4 linked regions of the Homo sapiens genome follow. The protein of the gene in region 1 interacts with the protein of each later gene in a biochemical or structural test. Each region holds a gene or a part of one and is shown in the gene's direction. Other genes may lie near its edges.

Region 1 (8,006 bases):
GAATGGAAGGGCAAATTAGCTGGTACCTGAAATTAGGGGTTTCGTTCAGGATCAATATTTGTGGCAAGGTTTCACTCTCTGCCACTGTAGTAGATTGAGTGGAGGCCTCCAAAAAGATATGTCCAAGTCCCCATACCTGTAAATGTGACCTATTTGGAAAAAGGGTCTTTGCACATGTAATAAATTTAAGAATCTTGAGATGGGATTGCCAAATCGTTCTGGATAGGATGAGCCCTGAATCCAAAGAGAGGCATCCTTGTAGGAACAGGGCAGAGGGAAATGGGGCAGGCAGAACAGGAGATACAGAGAAGAAAGTCTGCCAAGACAGAGGCAGGGATCAGAGTGAGGCAGCCACAAGCCAAGTAATGACTGGAGCTACCAGAAGCTGGAGAATGCAAAGGAGGACCCTCCCCTGGAGCCTTCAGAGGGAGCACGGCACTGTCAACACCTTGATTTTGGACTTTGGGCCTCAAGAACTGTGAGAGAATAAATTTCTGTTACTTGAAGCCACCAAATTTGTGGTAATTTGTTACAGCAGCCACTGGAAACAAGTACAGCCTCTAAACAGCCCAAACTTGGACCCTGCTTGAGGCTGCCTCCAACTCCCCTCTCCCCCACCAAGACCCTGTGTATAGCTTCGGCCCCATTCAAAGGCTACTCCAGGCTGGGTGCAGTGGCTCATACCTGTAATCCCAGCACTTCGGGAGGCCGAGGCGCGCGGATCACCTGAGGTCAGGAGTTCGAGATCAGCCTGGCCAACATGGCAAAACCCCATCTCTACTAAAAGTACAAAAATCAGCTGGGCGTGGTGGCGCACACCTGTAACCTCAGCTACTAAGAAGGCTGAGGCAGGAGAATCGCTTGAATCCGGGAGGTGGAAGTTGCAGTGAGCCAAGATCACGCCATTGCACTCCAGCATGGGTGACAGAACAAGACTCTAACTCAAACAAAACAAAACAAAACAAAACAAAACAAAACAAAACAAAACAGGCTACTCCAGTCACTGGGCAGCACCCCCTGCAGGCGTGAGGGCCACTTGGGCTTGGGATGGGCATTTATTTACTTACTTAGCTTGACATACAGGGACAGGAATGAACCAGCCCTGTTTTTGTTCCAGGATGCTCTCAGGATTGTGAGTTCCAGACAAACCAGAACCCAAAAAGTATAAGGGTTTAAGGGCGGGAGGAGCACAGGAGTCTGGACAGTCACTTAAAGGAACTAAGACTTCAATTAGGTAGCTTCCAAGTGTGGCAGCTCCCACAGTTTTCACTGGAATGGGCATTTTTGTTAATTTTTCCCCTATGGAATGCTCACTTTCTAAAGACACTGCTGATCAAGCTAATTGCATGTATTCAATAACATTTCATTTATCTCCTTTATTTGCTATTATTTAAAGATATGTAGTAATGACAGTTAATATTTATTGAGCCACTCAGTATACTAAGAGCATGATATGTACTCATCCAACCTTCACATCAGCCCTATGAGGTGGGCACTTTTATTATCTCTGTTTTACAAAGGAGAGCAGAGACTAATGAAAATTTGCCCAAGTTTGCACCACTAGTATTTATTCAGCTGGAACCTGGACCCACGAAGCCTGGCTCCAAAGCAGGCTCTGGAAACCAGGCTAGAATGCAGGTTTCCATACCAATGTGCAATGCTACTCTGGACAAGTAATTTTGTCTCTCTGTGCTTCAGTTTCCTCATCCATTTTTTTTTTTTAAGACAGAGTCTTGCTCTGTCACCCAGGCCCGAGTGCAGTGGTGTGATCTTGGCTCACTGCAACCTCTGCCTCCCAGGTTCAAGCAATTCTCCTGTCTCAGCCTCCCGAGTAGCTGGGTCTACAATCACACGCCACCATGGCTGGCTAATTTTTTTGTATTTTTAGTAGAGATGGGGTTTCACCATATTGATCAGGCTGGTGTCGAACTCCTGACCTCAGGCGATCACCCGCCTTAGCCTCCCAAAGTGCTGCGATTACAGGCATGAGTCACCGCACCCGGTCCCCCCCTCATCTAATTTTTTATTTTTATTTTAATTTAATTTATTGTATTTATTTATTTATTTTTTGAGATGGCATCTTTCTCCCGTCGCACAGGCTGGAGTGCAGTGGTTCAATCTCGGCTCACTGCAACCTCCACTTCCCAGGTTCAAGCCATTCTCCTTCCTCAGCCTCCCAATTAGCTGGGATTACAGGTGTGCACCACCACACCCATCTATTTTCTGTGTTTTTAGTAGAGACAGGCTTTCACCATGTTGGCCAGGCTGGTCTTGAACTCCTGACCTTAGGTGATCCACCTGCCTCAGCCTCCCAAAGTGCTAGGATTACAGGTGTGAGCCACCAGGCCTGGCCTATTTTTATTTATTTATTTTTTTTGAGACAGTGTCTCACTCTATCGTCCAGGCTGGAGTGCAGTGACATGATCATGGCTCACTGCAGCCTCAATCTCCCAGGCTCAAGTGATTCTCCCATCTCAGCCTCCTGAGTACCTGGGACTACAGGTGCACGCCACCACAGCCGGCTAATTTTTTTTTTTTTTTTTGAGACAGGATCTTGCTCTGTTGCCCAGGCTGGAGTGCAGTGGTGCAATCTCAGCTCACTGCAGCCTCTGCCTCCCAGGTTGAAGTGATTCTTGTGCCTCAGCCTGCCGAGTAGCTGGGATTACAGGCATGCACCACCACACCCTGCTAATTTTTGTATTTTTAGTAGAGTTGAGGTTTCACCATGCTTGTCAGGCTGGTCTCGAATTCCTGACCTCAAGTGATGCACCCACCACGGCCTCCCAAAGTGGTGGGATTACAGGCGTGAGCCACCACAGCCAGTCAGTTTTCTCGTTTATAAAATGGGAATAATAGCACCTGTATTGAAGGGTTGTTGTGGAGATTGAATGGGAATGTGTACTTAGAATTCCAGGCATAGTGCCTGCCACAAGCACTCAAGGAATGAGCTGGAGTTCAGCTGATAATACCAGGCAGTGTCTCTGGGCAACACGGAATGAAGACAATTCTCTCTTCCAGGTTTTCAAACCTCCTGGAATTCACAACGTCCACATGACATGCCAGGCCCAGAGGGGGATGGTTTAAACTGGAGCCTGCAGGAAGGCAACCTGACCAACCTGCTCATGGGTGCTTTAAGGATCATAGGTACGAGAATCAGCTGGAGTTGTTGGTGAAAATGCAGATTCCGGGTCTCATCCCTAGACCAAAGATATCTGAATCATTTGGCGATGGGTCCAGGAACCTGCATTATTCAACACACTTCCCAGGTGACCGTAAATGTCAAAAGACAAAATTACAACAAACTTAAACATCTTAATTGGCTTCATTCATGATTCTAGAATCGGGCAAGACTTCATTCCTCAAAATAGCACAAGTGTCCCAATGAGCTGAGCAGAGGAGGTTGGTTTTATAGACAGAAAAGGGCTGAAAAAAGCAGAAACAAAGAACAAAAAGCAGATTGGTCATTTCAAAGTTACTTTCCTTGTAAGGCAGGAACAGGGAAACAGAACAAGAGAGAAATAACTGATTGGTCGCATCGGGTTACTTCAGGTTACTTTTTGTTGTAAGGATTAAAGCAAAGGGAACTTCATTATGTTGATTAAAACGGTCTGCTTGGGAAATCAGGGTGTGTATCTCTCTTCTGATTTTGTGAAAGGTTATCAGTCTGATGATGTAGAACTTTAGCATGAGTGACTCCATTTTGATTTTTAGTCTAGTCTGTTGAGACCCTAATGCCAGAACTTTTTTTGTTTGTTTGTTTCGCTCTTGTTGCCCAGGCTGGAGTGCAGTGGAGCTATCTTGGCTCACTGCAACCTCTGCCTCCAGGGTTCAAGCGATTCTCCTGCCTCAGCCTCCCAAGTAGCTGGGATTACAGGCATGCGCCACCACGCCCGGCTAATTTTTTTTTTTTTTTTTTTTTTTAGCAGAAACCGAGTTTCACCATGTTGGTCAGGCTGGTCTCGGACTCTTGACCTCAGGTGATCCACCTGCGTCGGTCTCCCAAAGTGCTGGGATTACAGGTGTGAGCCACCACACCCAGCCCTTTTTTTTCAAGACAGGGTCTCTCTCTGCCACCCAAGGTGGAGTGCAGTGGCGCCAAAACAGCTCACTGCAGCTTCCACCTCCTGGGCTCAGGTGATCTTCCTGCCTCAGCCTCCCCAGCAGCTGGGCCCCACCACACCGGCTAATTTTTTAACTTTTAGTAGTGACGAGGTCTGATTCTGTTACCCAGGCTGGTCTGGAACTCCTGGCCTCAAGACATCCGCCTGCCTCTGCCTCCCAAAGTGCTGGGATTACAGATGTAAGCCACCGCGCCTGGGCTCCTATGATTTTTATTTAACATAATGCACCATGGAATTTGTGCTCTGCTTAGTTCAGTCTGAGCAGGAGTTCCTTGATACTTCGGGAAACACTGAAAATCATTCCATCCCCATCCATTCATTCCTGCAGCACCCAAGTGGAAATTCTGCGTTTCAGACAGGGACACTACCCTTAGAGAGCAGTGGGCTTCCCCAGCAGCGTAGTGAAACATGATACTCCTGAGTTTCATGAAAAAAGGGCAGACATCTGGCCAGAGCTGGGAGGCAGGAAATAGAGCACGGTGCCCTCCTCCCATACTCCAGCTTGGATTACTGAGGCTGGGGCCCAGGCCCTGCAGGAAAGGAGGTGCATGACTACTTTAAGGCCACTCACTCTGTGACTCAACGGGCCGGGTCGGGGCTGGAACTCAATGCCCTCCCGGGCCTGGAGAGCCCACGCGCCGTGGGCGGGGCTCCCGGGGTCGCCTAGGCAACAGGCGCGCGCCGCGCCCGAGCCCAGAGCCCCAAAGCGGAGGAGGGAACGCGCGCTATTAGATATCTCGCGGTGCTGGGGCCACTTCCCCTAGCACCGCCCCCGGCTCCTCCCCGCGGAAGTGCTTGTCGAAATTCTCGATCGCTGATTGGTCCTTCTGCTTCAGGGGCGGAGCCCCTGGCAGGCGTGATGCGTAGTTCCGGCTGCCGGTTGACATGAAGAAGCAGCAGCGGCTAGGGCGGCGGTAGCTGCAGGGGTCGGGGATTGCAGCGGGCCTCGGGGCTAAGAGCGCGACGCGGCCTAGAGCGGCAGACGGCGCAGTGGGCCGAGAAGGAGGCGCAGCAGCCGCCCTGGCCCGTCATGGAGATGGAAAAGGAGTTCGAGCAGATCGACAAGTCCGGGAGCTGGGCGGCCATTTACCAGGTGCGGGAGCGCCCCGGAGCGTGGCGGGCCCTTCGCTTAGGCCGCTTGAACATCCCCTCAGACCTCCAGGCCCCAGACTCCCTCTGGGTCTTGCCCTCTGCCTCGCTCCTACTGCTTGAGGATTCGATGGGACAGCGACGCACTGCGTCCCCCCACCCTTTGTCCCCGGGGCGGGCGTGTTTCTCGCCGCAGCGTCGGAGCCCCCTTCGATCCCCCACCTCCCTTCTGTTCTCCAGCTCGGGTGATCTCTCAAGCCGGGGGACCGCCGGTCTGTGCTCTCAACGCGAATCCCTCGCACCCCGACCCCGCCCCCTGCCTGTCCACTCTTTGTCCCCTGGGGTGATTTAGCACCCCCACTATTTCCTTTTCTGGAGTGGACCACCTCAGACTCTCTTCCTTTGTCTCCCTGGGGGAAAAGGTTACTCCCCCCGTCCCTCCTTCACATTTCCTTTCCCCTAGTCTCAGTGTGCGTCGAGTCCCAGAGATGACAGTCCCCTTTCCCCTTTCTGTTCATTCATTTATTGGATAGGAGTTGGCAAGCTTATTCTGTGCTAGGCACCGCTTAGGCATTGGAGGTGGTGTTTGCTAATCAGGACAGGCAAGATCCTAGCCTTAGTGGGGCCTAGAGTCGAATAGGGCAATCAAACACAAAAGCAAATAATTTCAGATAGTGACAGGTGCTGTGAAGAGAACGACTTCCTAACGGGGTACAGGGTGACTGCATAGAAGGCCGGCTGTCTTAGAGAAGGGGATCAGGGAAGGCCTGTCAAAGGAGGAGACATTTGCTTTGTGAGCTGAACCAAGAGGAGCAGAAAGCCGTGAGAATATGGGGCTAAAGAACCTTCTAGCCAGGAGGCCTGCGGTACCCACTCCATTGGGGCCATGATATTATTCTTTCAGGCAGGGACTCAGGAAGGTTAACGTTTTAACCCTCTCTAAAATAGCATCTTTCCTCAATGAGCAGCTTAGTCTTTGGTCGTGGCAGAGATGACCTTGTCTTAGGAGTCATCTCCTTGTGTGTTAAAAAGTTAGGAAAGGAGGGTTTCTCATATATCTATAAAACAAGTAGTTAAAAACACAAAGAGCTCTTCCTTTCACAAGCAGCTGAATAAGATACATACTCCCAATTAAATGTCATTGCGGGGGTTGTTAAGATTAACTAAAACCACACTTGCACAGTATCTTAAATAAGCGATATACAGAATAGAGAGATTTTGTTACTTGTGTAAAGGGAGACAGCAGATGATTCTGTTTTCAGCTTATAGGCTCAAAAGGCAAATTGTGAGATCCATCAGCTGTAGTATTAAAATCTATTTTGAGCTCCGCTTAGAAAGGAAAAAAGGTTTAAGCAGTTCTTTGGTATGCTTGACTAACAAAAGCCTTTTTTTTTGGCAGCCTTGATTTTCATGTGGATTTACATCAAGCTTATTTGACAGGATTCTTTTTATTTGGACTGTAGTGTGTATATTAGTTTCTGCTAGACTAATATTTCTAACCACTGTAATCTATATACTAATAAGTATGATTGATCAGTATATAAAATTTGTATGCCATATCTGGTCTCTGAATTAGCTGAATGAATTCCATAAGGGACTTTGAGACTGTGTAGACAAATTTTCTGCATCAGTTTAATGCAGTAGAGTCTAAAATGTCTTTAAATGAAAATTGTTGGTCTGAAGTGTTGGAGTTGATTATGATACACCCCATCACAGTGGAAGCATTGTGGAGAGAAGTCTTTTCCACTGAAATTGACTGAGTTGACAACAAGAAATACGTATTGTAACTTAGTTCTTAGTTGAATTTTATTTCTTACAATTTTAAGCCAGAGTGGGTTGACCTGTCACCCAAGCATGGTTAAAATTGTATTCAGCATGCAACTAGCATGGAGTGTGTCAGTCTTCAATTCATTTCCTTCATTGTTCTTAAGTTTTTCTGCCACAATTAAACCCCACAAGTTAGTCAAGGTGTTGAGATTTTCACTGCTTCTTAATGGATTGCCACATTCCCTGAGGTAGTTTCTTTTGGTCTTAGAGAATTGTCAGGGCCAGCTTTTCTCACCTCCACTGTATGGATATTTTTCTTTTCTAAGATCTTGAAATCAGAAGCTTTTCTCCTAAGTGTAAAAGTAGCTCTTTGTCATACAACTGTAGCGTTTTCTGAAACAGAGTTCAGATGACCTTGAGTCTAAAGTGGCTAACTTTCCAAGGTGTGTATCGCTTTACCAAAACCATTATTTTTCAAGGATTCAAAGAATGTGTTTACAATTGATAGAAAATGGAAGTTTAAAAAAATTAATACTTTATAGCATGTTGAAATGAGGGCAGCCTTATACAAAGTCATACTTTGAGCTTGCCTAGCCTATTGTGATCAGAGAATAATGTAATTTTTGCTTACAACTTGGTAAGCAGGTCAGTTATTCTAACTTATTTTCTGATTAGAACAAAAAGATGTAAAAACTTGAAAACTATTGGGAAAAGAACAAAGAGTGAAGAGGACTTTTGAGTGCTGAGGAATGTGGCAGCTTGGAAAACAAACTTTTTAGGCAGAGATTCTTTGCTAGGTCAGTTTGATAAAGTGAGCATAACCGTATTTTTAATCTTTAATGCTAATGAATAGCATAGATGCTAATAAGCATCTAGGTCTATAAAAAGTCAGCTTTGATAGTGTATATAGATGGCTTTAAACATTGTTTTCTAGCATTTAAACACTTTCAAATCATCCGGTTGCTTGATTGGGCCTAGCTGTCTAAGAGGAGAGAATGAGCCCAGATGAGGAAAAGAGATTGATTTTAC
Region 2 (7,021 bases), on another chromosome or scaffold:
GGGGACTCCATGGACATGGGCCACCAAGCCTGGCCACCAGGGGAACCTGGGTCACTGGCTCCCACTTCCTGCTCTACCTGCTCCTTCAGCCATCTGGTCAGAGGCGAGCCTGGCTGGCGTGGGGTGCCTGGGTGGGGGTGCTCCCAAACTGGCTTTAGCAAGAGGAGCAGGGTCCTGTTATCCCCTGGGGAGGCGGCAGGGAGCAGTGTCCTGTAGGGGAGCCTCAGGCCACAGTCCAGGTATACCCACACCCCACACAGATGAACACACGTGCATGATGCCTGTACCCCACAGATACGAACACCCATGCACACACCATATGCACGAACACACACATGCGCTACATGAATGTGCGTGAATACATGCACATATCTGCATCCCATACCCCATAAATGGACACACGTATACGCCCACACATGCGCACATCATATGCATGAACACGCACACACCCAAACCCCATATGTGTAAACACACGTGCATACTCACCCCACACACAGACACGTGTACGTCCACACATACAAAGCGTGTGCACCCACCAGTATCCCACAAACGTACAAATGTATGTGCGTATGCACACGCACACACAGTCCACACTGCACATGCCCCAAGGTCAGGCACATCCCCACCCCTCCTCTCCCGCCTTTGCAGTGAAGCTTGTCCTGGTGCGGCTGGAAGCCCTGTGGGCTGGGGAGCAGCAGCGAGACCCCCAGACAGAGCCCGGCCTCGAGGCTGTGTTTTGGCAGCTGTTCTGTCTCCGTCTCCGGCAGGGGGCCTGCTCTCAATTGCATCAGGGGCTCAGCCAGCTGGGTCCTTCTCTGCCCATGCCCACTGGTAGAGCTGCCCAGACCTGTGCCCCAAGGGCCCTGACCTGGCTGATGGCCCAGGAAGGAGAGCCCTGTGTCCTGGGCCTGGCTGCTCTCCCCCAGGAAACCTCCCCCAGTCTTGATTGTGTCTGCTTGTATTTTATGATCACAAAAGCAATGCTTGTTTGCTGTAGAAAATGCATAATGTATGGGAAAGTCTGGAGATGAAATTTTCCAATCGCGGTAATCACTGGGAAATTCTGGCATATTTTGTCTAGTATCTGCCCTGTGTTTCACAGATTTATACATGCAGTTTTGCATTTCAAAGTTGTAAATCCAACATTAGATATCAAAAGCATTTTGTTGAATTCTTAAAGCTTGTCCCTGAGCCGCCTTGGACTTTGCTGGGTTGCCCCCTCTGCTGGGGCGGGCCCTGGGCAGTTTCCGATTGCTCATGCCTTCATTACGGTGGCACGGCGGTAACACCTGGCTGCGGGACATCTGTGTCTGAACCTCCAGGTGCTCCCCTCCAAGCCTCAGGCCTGCCCCTCAAATGCCTGGGAAACTGAGTCTCCCAGTTCCAGGGTAGTGGTTGGCTGGGCTGAGAAGGAGCCCTTGCCAGGACTTCACGTGGGCGGGAGGGACACTGGCTCTCAGGAAGCCAAGAGGGTGAGTGACAAGGATGGTGGCCAGGAGGGTCAGAACCCTGGGCCCTGGAGCAGGGTCCAGTGGTTGCTAAGGTGGGAGCCTGGTGGCCCGTATGGCTGAGGGAGAGGTGAGGGCCACACTGGCACCGAGACTCTTTGGGCCGGGTGTGGGCTGTAGGAATCTGAGGGCAGAGGCTCTTTCATGGTCAGATGGGACCCCCGGGGGAAGGCGTCTGTGGGAGGTCGCTCAGGTAGTGCCCCTGGTCAGTGTCTAAGGAGACAGCCATGGCGTGAGGTCAGGCGTGCACGTGGTCCTGTCGGGCCTGTGTTTCACCCTCCTCGCCCTAGAAGCTTCATCTTGCCCCAGGCTCCCCTGTGCTGGGACCTCAGGCTGGGGTGCCTGGAGCTGGGGAGGGAGGGGAGCGGGCTATGGTGGTGGCCCCTCAGGCCACCATGACCCAGGTCGGGTGAGCCCCTCATGCTGGGGTGTGTCCTGGTGGCCGTGGTCGCAGCGCTCCTGTGGTGCTCCATTTCCCAAGGAGGAAACGAGGCTCCTGGATTGGGACCTGGGGGTGCCAGAGCCGGGAGCCAACCCAGGTCAGGGGCGACACCCATTTTGCAGAAGGGGGAGACCAGCCACTGAGCTCCAGGGCGGGGGCCCACTTTGTCCCCTTCCTCCGACCTGACACCTGCCTCTGGGGCCCTTACCGGGAGGCTGGGATGTATTCCTGAGTTCGCTTGTCCCCCCGCTTGATGCCTGATAGTAGGGGAGGAGAGGGGCGGCACCCTGGCCCTGGGGCTGCCTGGGTTCTGTGCGTGCACCTGGCAGTGGGCCTGTGCTGTGTTTTCTCTGCATTGTATGAGGCATGTGTGTCAGAGACCGTGTGGGTCTTATGTCAGTGACTGTGCCTCTGTTCTCTCCTCCTGGGCTCTGGCTGTGTTCCCCTAACCCCCGGGGGACCTCCACGGCCTGCTAGTGGGGTCTCAGGTGTGCAGCAGGGTGGCCTGTGATTAGCAGTGGGGCTGAGTCATTCCCCTAAAGAGCTTTTCCCCCTGGTGGCTGCGTTGCTCTGTTTTTCTAACAGAAACATTTGGTCACTGTGGCTGCCTACTGCCACCCGACTCAGCTCCAAGAGTGGCAGGCGGCCATTTGCCTGGGGAGGCAGGCCTGGGTCCAGCTGCACCCCTGGGCCTCACCGCGTGAGGTTGGGATGGCCACCGGCAGGGTGCTTTTGGAGGATGCTCATCCCTCCTGCTGGTGCTGGGTCCTGGCTGAGCCTTGAGGCTGGGTCCCCACCTGCCTTTGGGAGGCTGGGAGGCCTGGAGAAGCCTCAGGCCGTGCCTCGAGGCCCAGCCAACCTGCCACGTCCCTCCGCCCCGCCTGCCCCGCTGTTGGCAGGTCCCTGCATCTAAAAATAGTTCTGGAGGAGACTCAAGTCTGGGGCGCGTGGAGGGAGATGAGTCTGGAGAGGCAGCCGCCAAATCCACTCCCAGACGCACTGGAAGGGGGCGGGGACACCCCACGGAGGCCCCCAGCCGGGACTCTGCTACCAGGCGTGCTGGAGACCTAGTGGGCCCAGTTCTGCTGCGCTGCGGGGGGCTCTGCCAGGCCTGCGGCTGCTGGGGGGTGCTGGCGCCTCTGCCACCCCCATGCTCAGCGCCCCCCTCACAGCACCCTCAGCAAGCAGGGCTGGCTGCCTGCCTGCATTGGGAGGGCCTCTAGGGGTTCAGGGGCACTGGGCCCGGGGGAGGGGCTGCTTTGGCGCTGCTGCCCTGGGGGATGTGCGGGGAGGCCCTGAGTCAACCCTGTCCCAGACATCCCCTTTGATGAAGGAACAAAAGGTCTTTCAGTGGAGAGAGCTGAACAGGGAGCCTGGTGGTGGAGGCGTGTGGGCGCAGTGTGCCCGGGGGCTGGAGAATCCCACCAGGGAGGCCTTGACCTCCCCAAGGCAGGGAGACCTTCAGGGAAGGAGGCTGCCTGGCATGGCCCCTACCCGCTTCAGGCTGGTGCTGGTGAGGGGTCCTGTGGCCCTGGGCAGGCCATTGTGCTGCCTGCCTCTTCACCCACTGTGCGGGCCTTGGCTTCCCTGGGCTCTGGGTCATGGTAAGAGCACCTGGGGAGGGGAGGGCTGGCCCTGGACCCACTTCCCCCACTAGGCCTCATCCTTTCAGGTCGCTGGGGATCTTACCTGCTGCAGGCAGCTCCCCCGGGGCAGGCGCGGCAGGGAGGGGGCCTTGGTCCCAGCTGCTGCGCCCCCCAGCACACACCCAACCTGCCCCTCTGGCCCTGTCCTCCAGAGTCTCCCCATGCTGTGCTGTGGGGCAGGGGGTGCTAGGCTCTATCTGGTCCTGGGCCGGATGCAGTCCCCTGCTGGGCCAACCCTTCTGAGGAGGCTACAGCTAGGTGGTGTGGGCAGCAGACTCCCAGGCCTCCGACGTGGCCTCTTGTCCTGTGGGGCTAGGCGCCCCAGTAACGGGGGGTTCCTTGCCTGTGGGTAGTGCCCTCCAGAGCCAGGGCCTCAGCCCCTCACCCCACCGGTGTCATCAGCTCATACCCATGCTCCTCTGTGGAGCCTTCTGGGTCAGCAGGCTGTAGAGACGTTGGTGTCCTGGCCCAGGACGAGGCAGCTCTGAATAAAACCCAGAGTTCTTGCCGTACCTGGCACTGCGTTCTGCTAGAGGAAGGTCAGATGGTGCAGAGGGGGTGAGAACTGGCATCCTTGGGGAGCCCCGTCCCTTCCACCTGGTGTGCCCTGCCCACCTCCTAAAAGGACGTGGCTCCCAGGTGTGAGTGGAGCCTCCCTAAGGGCTGGTTTGAGGGCAGCAGTGAAGTCGGCTCTCTGCCCCCAGGTGGTGGTGCCCACCCGCGTGGGGCAGGGCTATGTATACGAGGCCGCCCAGCCGGAGCAGGACGAGTACGACATCCCGCGACACCTGCTGGCCCCGGGGCCACAGGACATCTATGATGTGCCCCCGGTTCGGGGGCTGCTTCCCAGCCAGTATGGCCAGGAGGTAGGTGTGGGGTGCGCAGCGGTGGGAGGGCAGGGCGGCAAGTCTGTGCCTCTGCTTGGCCCTGGGCCGAGAGCTGCATCTTCTCAGCCCCGGCCAGGCCTGGGGACGGTGCTGCGGGGTTCCCACCTTTCCTATTCCCCCAAGTGGCCCTGGCGCCGTTAACCCTGCACTGTTTCTGCCCCAGGTGTATGACACACCCCCCATGGCTGTCAAGGGTCCCAATGGCCGAGACCCGTTGCTGGAGGTGTATGACGTGCCCCCCAGTGTGGAGAAGGGCCTGCCACCGTCCAACCACCACGCAGTGAGCAAATGCCAGGGCAATGCCAGGGCCAGGCTGAGGCTGTGGGGTGTCTGGGTGTGTGCACAGGGGTGCTGACCAGTGTCTGCAGGGCTGGGGGTGGCGGGCAGGAAGAGACTGGCTCCAGACCCTGGTTCTGGATGGTTGACAGATGAGGAAATCAAGCTGTCTTCTGAGCCTCAGGTTCTTTGTCGGCAGAACCGCCTGTTGCGAGGCCTTCTCCATGAGCTCCTGAGAGGGTATCCGCAAGGTGACCACGGGATGTGTCATCTCACCTGGGATACTTCCAAGAGTGAAGGGGGGACTAGTAATTATGTGGGGGCATCAGGGACAAACCAGCACTGTCCTGGGCAAACCAGAATTTGGTCCCCTGATAATACACACAGAGCTCAGTCGCACACCTGCTGCAGAGTAGAAAGTTCACACGTGGTGGTGGTGCTGGGTGGTAACAGTGATGGTGGTGATGAGGTGGCAGCGGCGGTGATGGTGATGAAATCATGATATGATGGTGGTGGCAGTGGCAGTATCACAGCTAACCTTTCAGTGAGTGTCTGCAGTGACACAATTATGTGAATTAACACATGCAATTCTTTGGGAGGAAGCTCTCCCACCTTCAGGCACAGGGGTGGTCACCTGGCTCCAGAGCCGGCTCGTCCCAGAGCTGTCATGGATAGGAATTGTGAAGGATGTGTGTGCTAGGGCTGCGAGTGTGTGTGCGCGTGTGTGTGCCTGTGTGCGTGCCTCTGCATTTGTATGTGTGCCTGTGTGTGTGCGCGTGCCTCTGTGTGTGTGTCTGTATGTGTGTACGTGTGTGTGTGTGTGTGGCTGGGTGCTGCCCCCAGTCCCTGGGGTGGGCAGATGGACAGATGGACAGTCTTGACCACCGCTTGTCCCCCAGGTCTACGACGTTCCTCCATCGGTGAGCAAGGATGTGCCCGATGGCCCACTGCTGCGTGAGGAGACCTACGATGTGCCCCCCGCCTTCGCCAAGGCCAAGCCCTTTGACCCGGCCCGCACCCCACTGGTACTGGCTGCGCCCCCTCCAGACTCCCCGCCGGCCGAGGACGTGTATGACGTGCCGCCCCCGGCTCCTGACCTCTACGACGTGCCCCCTGGCTTGCGGCGGCCTGGCCCGGGCACCCTGTACGATGTGCCCCGTGAACGGGTGCTTCCTCCTGAGGTGGCTGATGGTGGCGTGGTCGACAGTGGTGTGTATGCGGTGCCTCCCCCAGCTGAACGTGAAGCCCCGGCAGAGGGCAAGCGCCTGTCGGCCTCCAGCACCGGCAGCACACGCAGCAGCCAGTCTGCGTCCTCCTTGGAGGTGGCAGGGCCGGGCCGGGAACCCCTGGAGCTGGAAGTTGCTGTGGAGGCCCTGGCACGGCTGCAGCAGGGTGTGAGCGCCACCGTTGCCCACCTTCTGGACCTGGCAGGCAGCGCCGGTGCGACTGGGAGCTGGCGTAGCCCCTCTGAGCCACAGGAGCCGCTGGTGCAGGACCTGCAGGCTGCTGTGGCCGCTGTCCAGAGTGCCGTCCACGAGCTGTTGGAGTTTGCCCGCAGCGCGGTGGGCAATGCTGCCCACACATCTGACCGTGCCCTGCATGCCAAGCTTAGCCGGCAGCTGCAGAAGATGGAGGACGTGCACCAGACGCTGGTGGCACATGGTCAGGCCCTCGACGCTGGCCGGGGAGGCTCTGGAGCCACCCTTGAGGACCTGGACCGGCTGGTGGCCTGCTCGCGGGCTGTGCCCGAGGACGCCAAGCAGCTGGCCTCCTTCCTGCACGGCAATGCCTCACTGCTCTTCAGACGGACCAAGGCCACTGCCCCGGGGCCTGAGGGGGGTGGCACCCTGCACCCCAACCCCACTGACAAGACCAGCAGCATCCAGTCACGACCCCTGCCCTCACCCCCTAAGTTCACCTCCCAGGACTCGCCAGATGGGCAGTACGAGAACAGCGAGGGGGGCTGGATGGAGGACTATGACTACGTCCACCTACAGGTGGGTGCCGCCTGCCCAGCCCCGGCTCCTCTTCTGCCACGCTGGGCTCCTGTGCTTAGGGGGAGATTTGTTCTCAGCTGGGGCCTGGTCCCTGGCAAGGCCCTGCACCCTCCTCTCACTTTGACCTCCCTCACCCCACATTGGCCCCATGTGCTAGGGTGGCCATGTCATCGAGCCCTTCGTTGAGTCCCTCGGGCTGGTATCTCTGGTGACCAGCAGCGGTGACTCTGCTGTTCTGTGTGGGGAGACAGATCTGCAGAAATGT
Region 3 (7,021 bases), on another chromosome or scaffold:
AGTGATGCCGTTTGGCAGTTTCTAGACATGTGATATTTTAAACAAAAAGAAGCCACTTTGTTATCTTTAGGGAGATAAAAACAATTTTCATTTGGTCTTCAGGAACAAAATAAGCAACTTCCTTTTACAATTTTAACCATAAACTGTTTTGTTACTTGAATATTGTGTTGTAGCCAACAAGTTTGAATATACAGTCATGTTCTTGTCTTGAAATTTTAGTATTGATAACATAGTATAAAAAATTGGAAAAAAGGTTGATACATCGAAATAGTTCAGTGATCCTTTATAGGCAAGATTTTTTTCCCCCCAAGGTTGAATTTACACAGTAATCTGACTAGATATTTAGGTATGTTTTTTTCTATTAAATCATTGGGTTTCACATACAAACCTTTAGTGGTAGAGTACTTGGTCACATAACTTGTTTAAAATATGCTATCCAACAGAAAATATGTTAAGATATTTTGTTCTTGTTTTTGTTTTTCAGGGGGTTTGGGAAACAAGGCTTCCAGTGCCAAGGTAAGCTACCACTTTTGGTTTTATTTTCAAGCACAACATGAAATAAGCATTCCAAACAAGAACATTATTTCCAGTCATATTTTCTTTCCAATAAAAAAATGTTATTTAGATAATTTTGAAATATGAGGGCTGTAAATTTGGGCCTTAAAAAATAATTGGGGCCTACTAATCTGCATATAGAGCTGCCTTTTTCTCATTGGAAAAAAAAAAAAAAAGCCTTTCTGTAATTTTATTTTTTGCCGAGAACATTCTTGTCAGAAACTGCTGTCTTTGTGTGGGTGTTGAGAAAAAAATGGAATCACTTTGTATTCAAGTGGCTTTTCTTCCTTGTTCTTCCTCTTTGTTTTTATTCTTCATCGCTTTTACTTATGTATTGAGTTGGACTCACTGCAACTAATTTTAGGCCGTATTTCATTCTAGTAAGGGTTTGTTTTGTTTAGAATACCAGTTGTCATCGAGAACAAAGTTTGCATGTTTTAAAGTTTTGTTGATGATTTGATGACTGATTTCTATGGTATGACTATGTAGCATGCTTTCCTTTCAGCTTACATATCTGACAAAACGTGATATCAGCCATCACATACAGAAAGAAATCCATTTGCTTCACCCTCTGATCTGTAATTGCATTTCACACACATCGAATATCTAACTTTTTGTACTCTCCATTCTAATTGTTTGACTTTTCCTTTTTGAAGAAACCCACTTTAGAGCTTGTGAAGGCATCACAGGCTCATTAGCTAACTTTTCTGGCTCTCCTGCTCATTGTCTATATTGTGTTTATTTAGTTCTGGTTCCATTTCCCATCTGGGCATAGATTTATTATTAGGGCAAGCAGAAAGTACATTCTAGCCTGGAAAATATTATCCTAACACTGTTTAATATTAAGTGCATTAGAGAGAAAGGCACTGTGTACTTTTTTACAACTTTGAGATTGTGCTAGTAAATTGGTTGCCTTTTAAAAACTAGTTCAAATTTGTGAACTTGTTTCTTGTATACATTTTCTAAACATATTTTAGATGGGAGTATTTTATGGTATGATTATTCATTTAATATTCTACCTTCCTTTCTCCAAGATGTGCTTAAAACCCCTACTGAGTGTATCATTTTCAGAGTTGCATTTGAAAATCAAGGGATATTCCTTTTAAAAAGAGAAGAAAGAGAAAGATGTGTTATACCAGTCTCTACAAAAGATGAAAGGAAAATGTAGCTCTTTCTAGTTCTCAAAGTTGTGGGCCTGAACTTTATGGGTGAGATTTGAGCCTAGGCTTGAACATGACTTTAGGGAGTTTAAAGATGTAAGGTTCTGGGCCAATGTGATTGACATCTGTTATTTTTGGTGATATTTTTCGTTTGGGTGGGGACTTACATAAATCTATAAGAAAATTTTTGTACTGAATCTTCTCCATACTGCTTGTCTGGGAGAAAGTGGTTGTCTTGTTCTAAAACTTTTATCATTTTCTGCATAAATAAAAAATAAGGTTGATTAGAATAAGGTTGGTTCCTCTTAGACCCGCTCATCTGAGCAGATTTTGTGGAAATCACAGTGGCCGTATTACTAGGCTCTAGGGGGTTTTGCATGATTTCCCCCAGAGCATCTCTTGAACTTTTAGTGGATTAGCAGATTAATAGTTTCATGGCAACATAACTCCCTTTTACCTAAATTAAAAAAGTGAAACCCATAAAAATTTTAAACTGTATAAAATAAAAAGTGAAATTGCATATGCTTCTCTTTTCCCTCCTCCAGAGATAACTTCTGTTTGAGACAACCATTCGTTCACTCACTCACACATACTTAGTTTTTAAAAGGAGATCAAAATTTTATACGACTTTGCAACTTGCTCTTTTCACTCAGCAGTAGATGGTGGATATTCTTCCACATCAAAGCATCAGTTCTGCCTTACTCTGCTTAGTGGCTGCATGTGTGGATGTATCCAATTTATTCACCCATTCCTCTATCAAGGGGTATTTTGTAATTCGTTCTTACTAGTACAAATACCTTTGTCAAGAGCATTATTGGACACTAGTATAGGTATTTCTACAATAGATAGCCAGAAGTGTGTATGTGTGCATCTTACATTTTAACGGGTGCTGCTAAATTGCTCTTCAAGAGTTCCAGTGCACATTTTTTTGTATTAATGGGACTTCCTCTTCATTTTTACCAGTGAAGATATCGGGTAATATACATCTTTTACATTTTTTACCAATCTGGTAGGTGAAAAGGGGCCCCTCTTTTAGATTTCCATCTCCTGCATTATGGGTGAGCTTGAACTTTTTTTTTCAAATGTGTTTTAGCCATTTGTGTTGTGTGAATTGCCTTACTCTACCTAATATTTGAAACTCTGGATTTACAAACCAGACAAATTAGAGAAGTGACTATGTGCTTTCTATATAGTTCTTTGCTTTGGTGAAGAATTTAACCTCAGATCTCTTTAAATAATGAATTACCCTAGTGCGTTTACAAATTACAGTTCACAGAGACCTTTTCCAATAGTATACATTTATTTGTAACATGCTGTCTGCTTGTTATATTTTGTTTACTGTGTCTCATCTGTATTTGACTTCTAGTAGGCATATGCTAGTCCATTGTATTTTATTGTTTGTTGTAACTTAAGAAGGATATGTTACCTCAGGGTGATGCTTTTAATCCCACAAATATAGTTACCCAGCATTTTCTGTTTTGGCTCCTACCGCAAAATTAATCTTTCTATTAACATCTGACTATCGTAGAGTGAAGTTTTCTTTTAATGCTCTCTAATTTTGTTTTTTTTTTCCTCGGTTTTGTTTGATAGAACATCATTCTTCTGCAGGAGAATAACTCATTCTCATTCATACCTTTGGCAACACACTCTCTGGAAATGACAGCTGGAGTTTGAAACTGCTTTTTGTATTCCTCATACATCAGATTATTTTTACCCGATGAGGCAGTGCTTTCTGTCCACTAGTATGTAGTATGTTGCTTTGGTTAGTAGGTAAAATATCTGCAGCAAGCATAGTTTTTCTTTTTTTAACTAGAGGGGTGTGTATGCTCCCAGTGACTCACATATTCATGCAGTAAGTAATATAGCTTTAGATCCAAAATATTTATCTTCATTTTACTTAGTAAATGGTGAGTAGGTATTTGAAGACTAAAGAAATAAGTGAGTTTTAGTCCTTAAAACTGGGTTTGTAATTTATGCCATTTAGAGAATGGCATCTTACAAGCATGTGAAGTACTAAAGTTATTTCTACTTTCATTTATGTTGTATCTTGGGGAAGGGAAGGGCGTTTCTCTGGAGAGACTTATTGGCTTATTCTCATGTTCCCTTCATGGACTCTGTGCCATTCTTCTTTATATTGCAATATAGGTATACAATCCTGAAAACTGATATTACCAGGGCAAGTAACACAGGATCCCGTTGTCAGAATTTGCTGCCTGAAACGGTGAAACCAAGGGCCATTCTTCTGGGGAGGAGAAAGATGAGTGTGTAGTAGATTTCCAAGTGGGAAATACTTTTCTTAAGGTCCTCAGAGATAAAGACAAGCGTGTTCCTTCACAGCTCTGAAGTGACCCTTTTTACATGACTTGGAGTTGCCTTCTTATTTTTGGTTGAATGTTTTTTTGCTTGATGTACCCCTAGCACTCATTTCATCTCCATAAAACTAGCAGAGATCTAGTCCTTGCCCACTTTTTTTTTCCCCCGTCAGAGAAAGGAGAAGAAGACAGGAAGTAGATTTGTGTGGTATGGACATTGATGAAGTTGAGTTTCAAGTCTGGAAGGTCTGTTTCCAGTTGGTAGTTTCTGTCTTGCACTGGCTACTTCCAAAGTCAGTCATCAGAGAACAGAGCGATCCACTGTACTGCTCAAATGCACTCTTTCTCTGGGGCAGTGGAGCTGAAACAGTGTTATCCACTGCTTTCAGTACTGGAAAAGGGAAAGAGCCAACTCGATTTTTTTCCCCCTCCTTAGGCGGAGCAACACCCATGCACTTCTCTAATTACAGTGGTAGAAACAGCCTCTCAAAATGTGACCTGCCTATTTCAAATGCCAAACAGTTAACATAGTTTGTTTCATCTGCCTAACCTCCACTTGTTTTCTCTAATTTTTTTTTTTTTTTGCTATTCTTTGTCTTTTAATATCACAAATGAAAATGTGCTACAAACCTAGGCTCTTTGATGAGGTGAAGATACTCAAGAGACAGCGTGAGAATTAAGCTCTGTCAGTAACCATGACCAACAGGAGCCTGTTGTCCCTGAATGATCGTCACTGGATTTTGAGGGGTCTGCTGGGAAAGAATTTACATTTTTGTGCTTTCAATGATGCTACTAAAGTTGTTTTGAATCTTGAGTCATTTCCCTGCTAAGAACATAACACATATTGTACTTCATCTGTGACTTCAACTGAAGCTCTGCATTTTTCAGTGTTAAGGGTTAAAAAATCAGCTACTCTTCCCCTTTGATATTTTGTTTTGAAGGCCTGTTTCAGAGAAGGTATTTGCATTGGCTCATCTGAGCAGGGTGGTGATTTCTATTCCTTCTGTAAGAATGAAAGTTGGTGTTTAAGGGAAGAAAAAAAAGAATGAGTCTCCTCTTGGCTGTGTGAGCTGAGGGATTCCAGAAAACAAGACTACTTAAGGAAGGTGGCCTTTAAACAGAAAGGGGGCAGTAGCGAGTGAGTCACCAGCCTTTCAGAAAAGGGATGCGCCGTTGTCCTCATCCGCCACGGTGTTCTGAGAGCTGAGTTGTATGGACACCAAGTACCAGGAGATAGGAGACTGAGGTACAAGTTGGGTGGAATCATGAGGTAGGCCAGATTGAGCAGAGGATCTGTCTGTCCTCCCTATGGCCAACTTGAGCAGAGGATCTGTCCTCCCTATGTACTGCATTGACCGCTGCTTGCACTGTGTGGCCTCTGGCTGCCCGCTGGTTTTCAAAGTTAGTGCCAGGGTTTTCCATTATTCTGTCTTCAGGAGGGGTTCAGCCCTTGGTACCTCAGTTTTGATTGGTTACCCATCCCCAAATTGTAAGTTATGTTAATTAGAGATAAACTCTTGGAGGTTTAGTTCCAAAAAGATAGAATGCATGGAAGACTGAGTATAATTTGAAACCTAGAGTTTTTGTAGTAATGCCAGGTCAAAGCATTATCTCAGTCTCAAAGATGAAATGGTCAGTAATGCCTGAATTACAGAGAAAAGTGGTGGAGGTGGACAGTTAGAACTGCCTTTCTGTGGTTGGGTGCAGTGGCTCATGCCTGTCATCCCAGCACTTTGGAAGGTTGAGGCGGTCGAATTGCTTGAGCCCAGAACTTTAAGACCAGCCCGGGCAACATGGCAAAACCCCATCGCTACAAAAAATAGAAAAAGTAGCTGGGCATGGTGGTGCAGCACCCGTGGTCTCAGCTACTTGGGAAGCTGAGGTGGGAGGATCACTTGAGCCTGGGAGGTCGAGGATGCAATGAGGTGTGATCGTGCCACTGCATTCCAGCCTGGGCGACAGAGTGAGAGCCTGTCTCAAAAAACAAAACCAAACAATAACAAAAAATGCTATTTTTCTTTTCAACAGTGTTTTTCCTCCGTAAAACTGCATTAATACTTAGAAGTAGGGATGGTTAGATAAAACTAGTGTTGAGTGTTCCCATTTGGTGCTATATACTTGTTATAAAATGATTTCTGATTAATGACTTTCTGAATTGCTACTCTTTTACTTTATACGGTAAGTGAAAGTGTTTCGTTAATTTATTCACACATCAATCCTACCCCCGCCACCAGAAGCTGGGGTTGTAGCATATGGAGAGGCTATTTATCCTCATAGGTCGTGAAAGCCGAATAAATGTTTACTTTTGCAGATAAATCTGATGTTTGAGTTTCCTTTTCTTTATATTATTTTATTTTTTTGAGATGGAGTCTCGCTCTTGTCTCCCAGGCTGCGGTGCAATGGTGCAACTTTGGCTCACTGCAACCTCTGCCTCCTGGGTTCAAGCAATTCTTCTGCCTCAGCCTCCTGAATAGCTGGGATTACAGATGCATGCCACCATGCCCAGCTAATTTTTGTATTTTTAGTAGAGACGGAGTTTCACCATATTGGCCAGGCTGGTCTTGAACTCCAGACCTTAGGTGATCCTCCTGTTTCAGCCTCCCAAAGTGCTGGGATTACAGGCGTGGGCCACTGCACCCAACCAGAGTTTCCTTTTCTTTACATTTTTTGGTGGTTTCCTGCCCTCCGAGTATTTCACTCTCCTGGATGATACTATTGAAATTTAAGTTTTTAGACACATTAACTCCTCACTTGCTCAATTGTTTTTCTTCATGCAGATTCAGAGTATTCCATTTCCAAATAGCATTAGTTTCACAGCTGCCCTATCAGGATAAGTCCAACTCCTTAGCAAGACATTGGAAGACTCTTAAAGTCTCCTGCCTGACCTCTTCAGACTTACCTACAATGCTTTCCTTCTTCCTATCCCTGGGTCATTGTGAATAAGTTGCAGTTTCCCAGAAAGTGCTTGTTTCAATTCTTTCCTCAACCCCGTTT
Region 4 (6,929 bases), on another chromosome or scaffold:
ACTGTTATTGGTCCTTTGTGTTTTCTCTTTTTTATTTCTGATCAGTTGGACTAGCTGTTTTTATTGATCTTCACAAAGAACCAGCTCTTGATTTAATTAATTTTCTCTATTGGTTTTATGTTTTCTATTTCATTATTTTCCACTCTGCTCTGTATTATTTCTTCTCTTCTGCTTACCTCGTGTTTAATTTGTTCTTTTTTTCCCTCTGATTTCTTAAGGTGGAAGCTGAGGTCATTGGTTAGAGATCTTTCTTCTTTCCTGATACAGGAATTTAGTGCTATAAAATTCCCTCTAAAAACTGCTTTAGTTGTATCACACAAATTCTGATACATAGTGTTTTACATTTTCCTTTTGATTTGTTTTAACTCTATTCGCTTTAATCTTTTGCGTGCTTCTTTCTCTGGCCTCAGGTAGCTTTATTACCTGCATGTGTCAATCAGCACTATGCTGAATACTTGAGAGGAACCCTCTGCAGATGTCCATAGTTCTTTCTGGGCAATACTCTTCTCTTTGCTACTCTGTCTTGTGAACTCTGCACTCCTTGATTTCTCTTGAGCTAGTCTCCTCAACTTAGGTAGATGGCCTCTGCCTGGGTTCCTTCTCTCTGAACGATGACCTTCATTGTCTTATATCCATTGTCTTAACTTTAATATATTTTGTTCAGTGTTTTGGTCATATGATTGAGAGAACAAATCCGTTCCCTATTACTCCATTTTAATCAGAAGTTGGCAGTATTCTTGCTTATTTTTTTACAACTCAGTATTGGATGTTAAAATCAATGTATTGAGTTATTACATGCATTCAGAAATGAAATGGTGTAGAAGAGAAAAGGATATATTAGTTTATGTACTAAGGGTAAGTAAGTTTTGTATTATGACACTTCTTTTTTAGTTAGTATATGCCTTTATGTATGTGTTCATTGGGTTGTGATATAAAAGGCATTTCTTATTGTGGATCATGGTCAAAAGAGTTTGAGAAACATTGCTCTAGGTACATCATGGTTCAGTGCAGGTAGGAACCTGCAGCACTTAATTTCTATGCCTGCATTCAAGGGATCTAGAAAAAAGTCATCTCTATATTGTTCATCTGAAAAATGTTCATCATCTCTTACAAAGGTGTGATCTGAGAATCCTTGAAGTGATCTCTGGGACATATCTTATAGGTCTTAAAATCGAGGTAGATCCACAATTCTATCAGTTAAGAAATAGCTACTGATCACCAGTGTGTTCTAGACACTGTCCATGGAGGTGTTCAGTTACTAGCATGAATAAGTGGGAGGCCCTCTCTGGCCCAGTACTGAAGCCTATCTGGCTACTAAATGAGACAGAAAGTAAGGCAAGGTTTTAAGCAGTGCTAGGAGCACTCAGAACGCAAGGAAGATTTGAAATTGTGAAGGTGAGAAGGAGCGTGTCTGGGGGAATTATCCAGGTTCTTGCAGACTTAGAGGTTAAGAAAGTGAGATCTCCTTTATTTTATTTTATTTATTCATTAAAAATACACATATATTTTAACACCTACTATGTCCTTGAGAGATATCAATGAATAAAATAGATAAAAATCCCTGCCTTCATGGAGTGTACATTCTTCTGGGAGAAATTTTAAAAATATATATAATAAGTAAATTATCTGTCCAAAGGACAAACTGCTATGGTTGAAATAGTAGAGCAGAAGTAGGGTGATTAGAAGTAGGACCGCAAATCCTAATTTTAAGTGGGAGATAGTGGAATATATTTAGAATCCAACTATAATAGTAGCATATATTTACTCTAATAGAAACTCTACAAATATTCCAACATAATTAGACTCTTCTGGTGTACAAACCACCGTAAGACTGCCTATTCTCCATACCGCATTGACATGCTGCAGCCACTAGGGCGAAAATGGGCCGTTTCTTAGAAAAATGGGCTCAGAGTATGGGAGTGTGAGAGAAATGTGGGTGATTACGCACACACTCCTTCCTTCCCCAAGTGTTCCTCAGGGGCTTCTCCGCTTAAGGTTCACTGACAAGACAGGCGGAGTTTTACGTGCGTCTGAGACCAGGTCATTTTTGCCCTTGGCGTCTCTTCCTTGGCGCGTCCTCACCTAGTAGAGAATAGAGGCGCAGCTCAGGAGTAAACTTCAGCCTGGCCGTTCACCACTCGATGTGTGTTACAGCCGAGTGACAGTGGTGAGATAGACCTGCTGGCCTTGCTTTCGGGACCTGCAGCAAGATTTTTGGGTGCTGTCCAAGAATTCCCGCGGTTACACTCAGCGCCCAGGATCTGTACAAAAAAGCCCCAATAGATGTTTTACGTTCCCTTCGTAATATTTAACGCTTGGCCTAGATCCGAGCATTCACTCTAACGTTCGGTTTCTTGATCCTTCCCATCCCCAAACTCTGCGGGTAGATCAGTGACTATTACTATATTTTGAACGAGACTCCAACCCATTGCTCTCTCGAGAGAGAAGGATTGCCCGCCTTTTTCCCCCGGGCAGGAGCTCGGCGAGGCCAGGAGAGCCGCGCACCGGCCGGGCAGGGACGCGCAGGCGTCGGGCGCCGCTGGTTGCGCATCTGGCGCCAGAGCGCGCCCCCAGCGCTGTGCCCGCCGCGACCCGGGCCATGGGCTGGTGCTCCGGAGCGTGCCGGGCGCTCTCTCCCCGCGCGGGGGCACCAGAGCCCTCGGAAGTGTCAGGCACTGCGGTGTATTTTCCCCGTTCTCTTTTAAATGACTGCGGAAAAACAGATTCCGAGCCGCAAAAGGGAAGACGGATTCTCAGACAAGGCTTGCAAATGCCCCGCAGCCATCATTTAACTGCACCCGCAGAATAGTTACGGTTTGTCACCCGACCCTCCCGGATCGCCTAATTTGTCCCTAGTGAGACCCCGAGGCTCTGCCCGCGCCTGGCTTCTTCGTAGCTGGATGCATATCGTGCTCCGGGCAGCGCGGGCGCAGGGCACGCGTTCGCGCACACCCTAGCACACATGAACACGCGCAAGGTACGGCAGGGGAGCAAGGGCTTGGGATGCCCTACGTGGGGGTGGGCATCGCGGGGAGTGAATCCACGATCTGGGAATGGCTACATCCCGTCAGGTTAAAGGATGAGAGAAAATGACGCGGCGCCACACATCGGACAGGCCAGGGTGGCCACCGAGCATTTAGAATACGCATCAGGCGCGCTCCCTTCCCCTCACATGTCTCTATTTCCCGGGCGTGTGATGGCAGAAAACGGCAGGAAAAAGACCCACTTAGAGAGCTAGAATTGTGTTTGGAGACTCCCTTCCCTCTGCAAAAGCACCAACAGGAAGCCCCTCCAAAACCACCGATCCCCAAATAGGTGGCCCGGAATGGGGGCGGTGATCCTTGGTTACCAATGCAGAACACGTTTTGGTGTTTACAACATTTATTTATTTTTAGGATAGCTTGCCCTCCCTTTTAGGCAGGGTGGGAAAGGAGAACGCGGGGAGGGAGAAGGGAGGGAGGATTCCTATAATAAGAATCAGCGCATTTTTCAGAGCTGAACCAAGCACGGTTTCCATTTCAAAAAGGGAGACAGCCTCTACCGCGATTGTAGAAGAGACTGTGGTGTGAATTAGGGACCGGGAGGCGTCGAACGGAGGAACGGTTCATCTTAGAGGTACCTGGATGTAAATGCACACACACACACAGACACACACACGCACGCGCGTGCATGTCTACACGGCCAGGATGTGTGCGTGTGTGCGCGCGTGTGTGAACTCCCACATGCTGCTGCTGTCTGCTTCTGGCCAGTGGCACCGATGCCTCCCTCCTCCCTGCTCGCCCCCAGATTCCCCTCCCCTCCCTGGTGCTTTTGTCTGGAGGGTGTTATGGGTTTGTGTGTGTATGAGCGTGTGTGTGTTTTTGGATTTCAGACTAATTTTCTGGAGTTTCTGCCCCTGCTCTGCGTCAGCCCTCACGTCACTTCGCCAGCAGTAGCAGAGGCGGCGGCGGCGGCTCCCGGAATTGGGTTGGAGCAGGAGCCTCGCTGGCTGCTTCGCTCGCGCTCTACGCGCTCAGTCCCCGGCGGTAGCAGGAGCCTGGACCCAGGCGCCGCCGGCGGGCGTGAGGCGCCGGAGCCCGGGTGAGCAGCGCAGATAGTGCCCTCGGTCGCCTCGGCCCTCACTGTCTCCCCCTGGGGCGGCCTCGGCTACTCCCCAGGTGGGACGTGCCGCGCCACCTGCCCGCGCCACCGGCACCCAGCGGCCGTGGCGGATTCTGCAGCATCATTCGGGGGCCCCGTCGCGGAGCCAAAGCCGCCGGCAGTCTCCGCATTCCCCTTTAAAGGGTCCTTCGCCCGGCCTGTACCATGGAATCCTGTCTTGGGGACCCTTTCCCTACCTCCCCTCCCTTGGCCTCAGGCTCGAAGAGAGAGTGGGCACACTGGTGGCTCCAGCGGCGTCAGTGCCATCGCGGGGCAAGTTGATTCCTGGGCCGGAGCTGGGCACTCATCCATCCACAGTCTCCGGGCTGGGGTCGGGGTGGGGATGACGCGAGCAGAGAGGGAGAGTGCCCCAATTAGTGGTGTTGGGGGTCCTACGCTCAGTCTTACGCGTGTCTGTTTGTCCTCAGCCTCGAGGTGCATACCGGACCCCCATTCGCATCTAACAAGGAATCTGCGCCCCAGAGAGTCCCGGGAGCGCCGCCGGTCGGTGCCCGGCGCGCCGGGCCATGCAGCGACGGCCGCCGCGGAGCTCCGAGCAGCGGTAGCGCCCCCCTGTAAAGCGGTTCGCTATGCCGGGGCCACTGTGAACCCTGCCGCCTGCCGGAACACTCTTCGCTCCGGACCAGCTCAGCCTCTGATAAGCTGGACTCGGCACGCCCGCAACAAGCACCGAGGAGTTAAGAGAGCCGCAAGCGCAGGGAAGGCCTCCCCGCACGGGTGGGGGAAAGCGGCCGGTGCAGCGCGGGGACAGGCACTCGGGCTGGCACTGGCTGCTAGGGATGTCGTCCTGGATAAGGTGGCATGGACCCGCCATGGCGCGGCTCTGGGGCTTCTGCTGGCTGGTTGTGGGCTTCTGGAGGGCCGCTTTCGCCTGTCCCACGTCCTGCAAATGCAGTGCCTCTCGGATCTGGTGCAGCGACCCTTCTCCTGGCATCGTGGCATTTCCGAGATTGGAGCCTAACAGTGTAGATCCTGAGAACATCACCGAAATGTGAGTTCCTGGAGCTTTTCCTCCTTTTTCTCCTTGCCCCTAGGGCCCGAGCTGGCCAGGTGGGTAGGTCCTGGAAGTGAATGCTGTCCCAAGAGTGGGGAGAAGTCAAAGACAAGGGATGCAGGACAGGGTCATCTGTCAGTTACCTGCTGTTTCACTGGCTTGGGACTGCTAGTGCAGGGAGAAGTGTGACACTTTAGAATAAGTTTCAAATATAGATATACATATGCCGATTATATATTTATTCCTCGTGGGAAGGAACTCACTATGCTTTTTATATTTCAAAGCTCTGCTGGGTGTGCTTTAGGCTTTCAGTATGCACTAACTTAGTTTTGGGCATTTTTGTTTCATAAAGTGCTGTGTGTATGTTGTGTTAGAAGTTCCATTAATATTCACTAGAAAAGAGGTTAAAATAATTAACTTTCCCAAATCTGTTGAGGGAAGTGACAGTCTCTCCCTTAACATCTTTTTTGAGATTTAAGTTAACCAATTTCCCTTTTCATTTTATATATCGGATTTTGCTTAGGAGATGGCATCCAGAGATGGCCTTGAAAATGATCTGTAAGAGGAGAAGTTCTGAGTGTTGAAATGCACTCGCTCAAAAGAAAAAAATATGATAGTTGGAAGCCTAAAAGCCTGGTCTAATTTAATTTGGACTTGACTTCCCAGAGATATGATTTTGAGACCACTTGGATTATAACTCTTAATTGCCCATTGAATAATTTCCCAGGACTAGGTTGGATGATAAAGCACTGGGTAGAACTCTGATGAAGGCTGGCTTTAGCATTGGACCTCTGTGTCCCTGGAAATGTTTGAGCTTGTTGTGGCTTGAAGAAACAGAACTGTGTATTTCTATTCTCCTTTTCTGATGCTTTGTGACAAATGCATCACCAAGCAAGAACTTGCCAGTCCTTTCTCTAGCATTCCTGTGTCACCTCTACTGGACTGTTATTGTTATCATTTTTTTCCTGAAGGATGCTGTCATTCCATACATCTCATTAACATGAGATTTTATTCGTATACGTGGAAGATTGTAAGGCAAAGTTTCTCCCAGTTTTCCTTATTGTGTTTGATACTGAGATAGGCAGCCCTAAAGTGGGGCTTGGGCTGTGGCCTTCCGGTTGTCGAGTGCGCATGCATTTTTCCTTCCACAGAAAACATACAACCATGTTTCTGCCAACGTAGTTGACCAAGATAACCTGTTTTTTAATGTAAGTAAGAGACCTTCCTAGTCTCTGTTGCCTGTTCTGCTGCTGATGCTTATGGTGTAAGCCTCAGGCAAAAGGAAATGACAGCAGAGCAGAGGGGAATGTTCAGGCCTAGCATAGCTGAGATGTGTCGGGAGCAGCCAACTGTCGGGCTGAGTCCAGGGTGCTAGGATCTCTATCTTTTTGGCAAGGAGAGCAGGAGCCAAGAGCGGAGAGCAAGGGTGGATAGGGCCCCAACTGTGGTGGTCTTGGACTGGGCTGGTTGAGGCTTACCAGGCTGGTCCAAAGTCTGTGGCCTTTTGTCAGAATCTTTTTCATGAGATGGGGTGTCAGTAGTTAGATGGAGAAGGCCATATGGAATTCAGAGTGCTTCTGACTGTTTTGAGATTATGGGGAGTGCCTTCCACAGTCAGATATTGTTGTGTGTGTGTGGTGGTGCTTTTAAAATTCTGTTTTAGGTGATAGATGCATATAATGAAGAAAGAAAGAAGATAGGGCTGATCATTTTCACTTTGTTTTTCTGTTTGATAATTTTAAGGCCATGATCTGAGAAAAAGGAAATAAAACTA

What was found.
Region 2: the proteins of PTPN1 (region 1) and BCAR1 form a complex in vitro, tested with the Homo sapiens proteins (3 studies listed by BioGRID and IntAct, with this or other methods).
Region 3: of the proteins of PTPN1 (region 1) and PRKCA, one has a biochemical effect on the other in vitro, tested with the Homo sapiens proteins (one study listed by BioGRID).
Region 4: the proteins of PTPN1 (region 1) and NTRK2 form a complex in vitro, tested with the Homo sapiens proteins (2 studies listed by BioGRID, with this or other methods).

The regions. Positions count from the first base shown.
Region 1 is NC_000020.11:50,505,377-50,513,382, forward strand, and holds the start of PTPN1 (tyrosine-protein phosphatase non-receptor type 1), read left to right. Parts: upstream 1-5,006; 5' UTR 5,007-5,151; coding exon 5,152-5,214; intron 5,215-8,006. UniProt on the Homo sapiens protein: Tyrosine-protein phosphatase which acts as a regulator of endoplasmic reticulum unfolded protein response. Mediates dephosphorylation of EIF2AK3/PERK; inactivating the protein kinase activity of EIF2AK3/PERK.
Region 2 is NC_000016.10:75,234,624-75,241,644, reverse strand, and holds part of BCAR1 (breast cancer anti-estrogen resistance protein 1), read left to right. Parts: intron 1-2,984; exon of another isoform or gene 2,985-3,551; coding exon of another isoform or gene 3,552-3,554; intron 3,555-4,300; coding exon 4,301-4,462; intron 4,463-4,646; coding exon 4,647-4,763; coding exon of another isoform or gene 4,764-4,817; intron 4,818-5,658; coding exon 5,659-6,756; intron 6,757-7,021. UniProt on the Homo sapiens protein: Docking protein which plays a central coordinating role for tyrosine kinase-based signaling related to cell adhesion. Implicated in induction of cell migration and cell branching. Involved in the BCAR3-mediated inhibition of TGFB signaling.
Region 3 is NC_000017.11:66,305,612-66,312,632, forward strand, and holds part of PRKCA (protein kinase C alpha type), read left to right. Parts: intron 1-484; coding exon 485-516; intron 517-7,021. UniProt on the Homo sapiens protein: Calcium-activated, phospholipid- and diacylglycerol (DAG)-dependent serine/threonine-protein kinase that is involved in positive and negative regulation of cell proliferation, apoptosis, differentiation, migration and adhesion, tumorigenesis, cardiac hypertrophy, angiogenesis, platelet function and inflammation, by directly phosphorylating targets such as RAF1, BCL2, CSPG4, TNNT2/CTNT, or activating signaling cascade involving MAPK1/3 (ERK1/2) and RAP1GAP.
Region 4 is NC_000009.12:84,665,809-84,672,737, forward strand, and holds the start of NTRK2 (BDNF/NT-3 growth factors receptor isoform a precursor), read left to right. Parts: upstream 1-3,920; 5' UTR 3,921-4,080; exon of another isoform or gene 4,081-4,413; intron 4,414-4,540; exon of another isoform or gene 4,541-4,568; 5' UTR 4,569-4,940; coding exon 4,941-5,152; intron 5,153-6,282; exon of another isoform or gene 6,283-6,363; intron 6,364-6,929. UniProt on the Homo sapiens protein: Receptor tyrosine kinase involved in the development and the maturation of the central and the peripheral nervous systems through regulation of neuron survival, proliferation, migration, differentiation, and synapse formation and plasticity.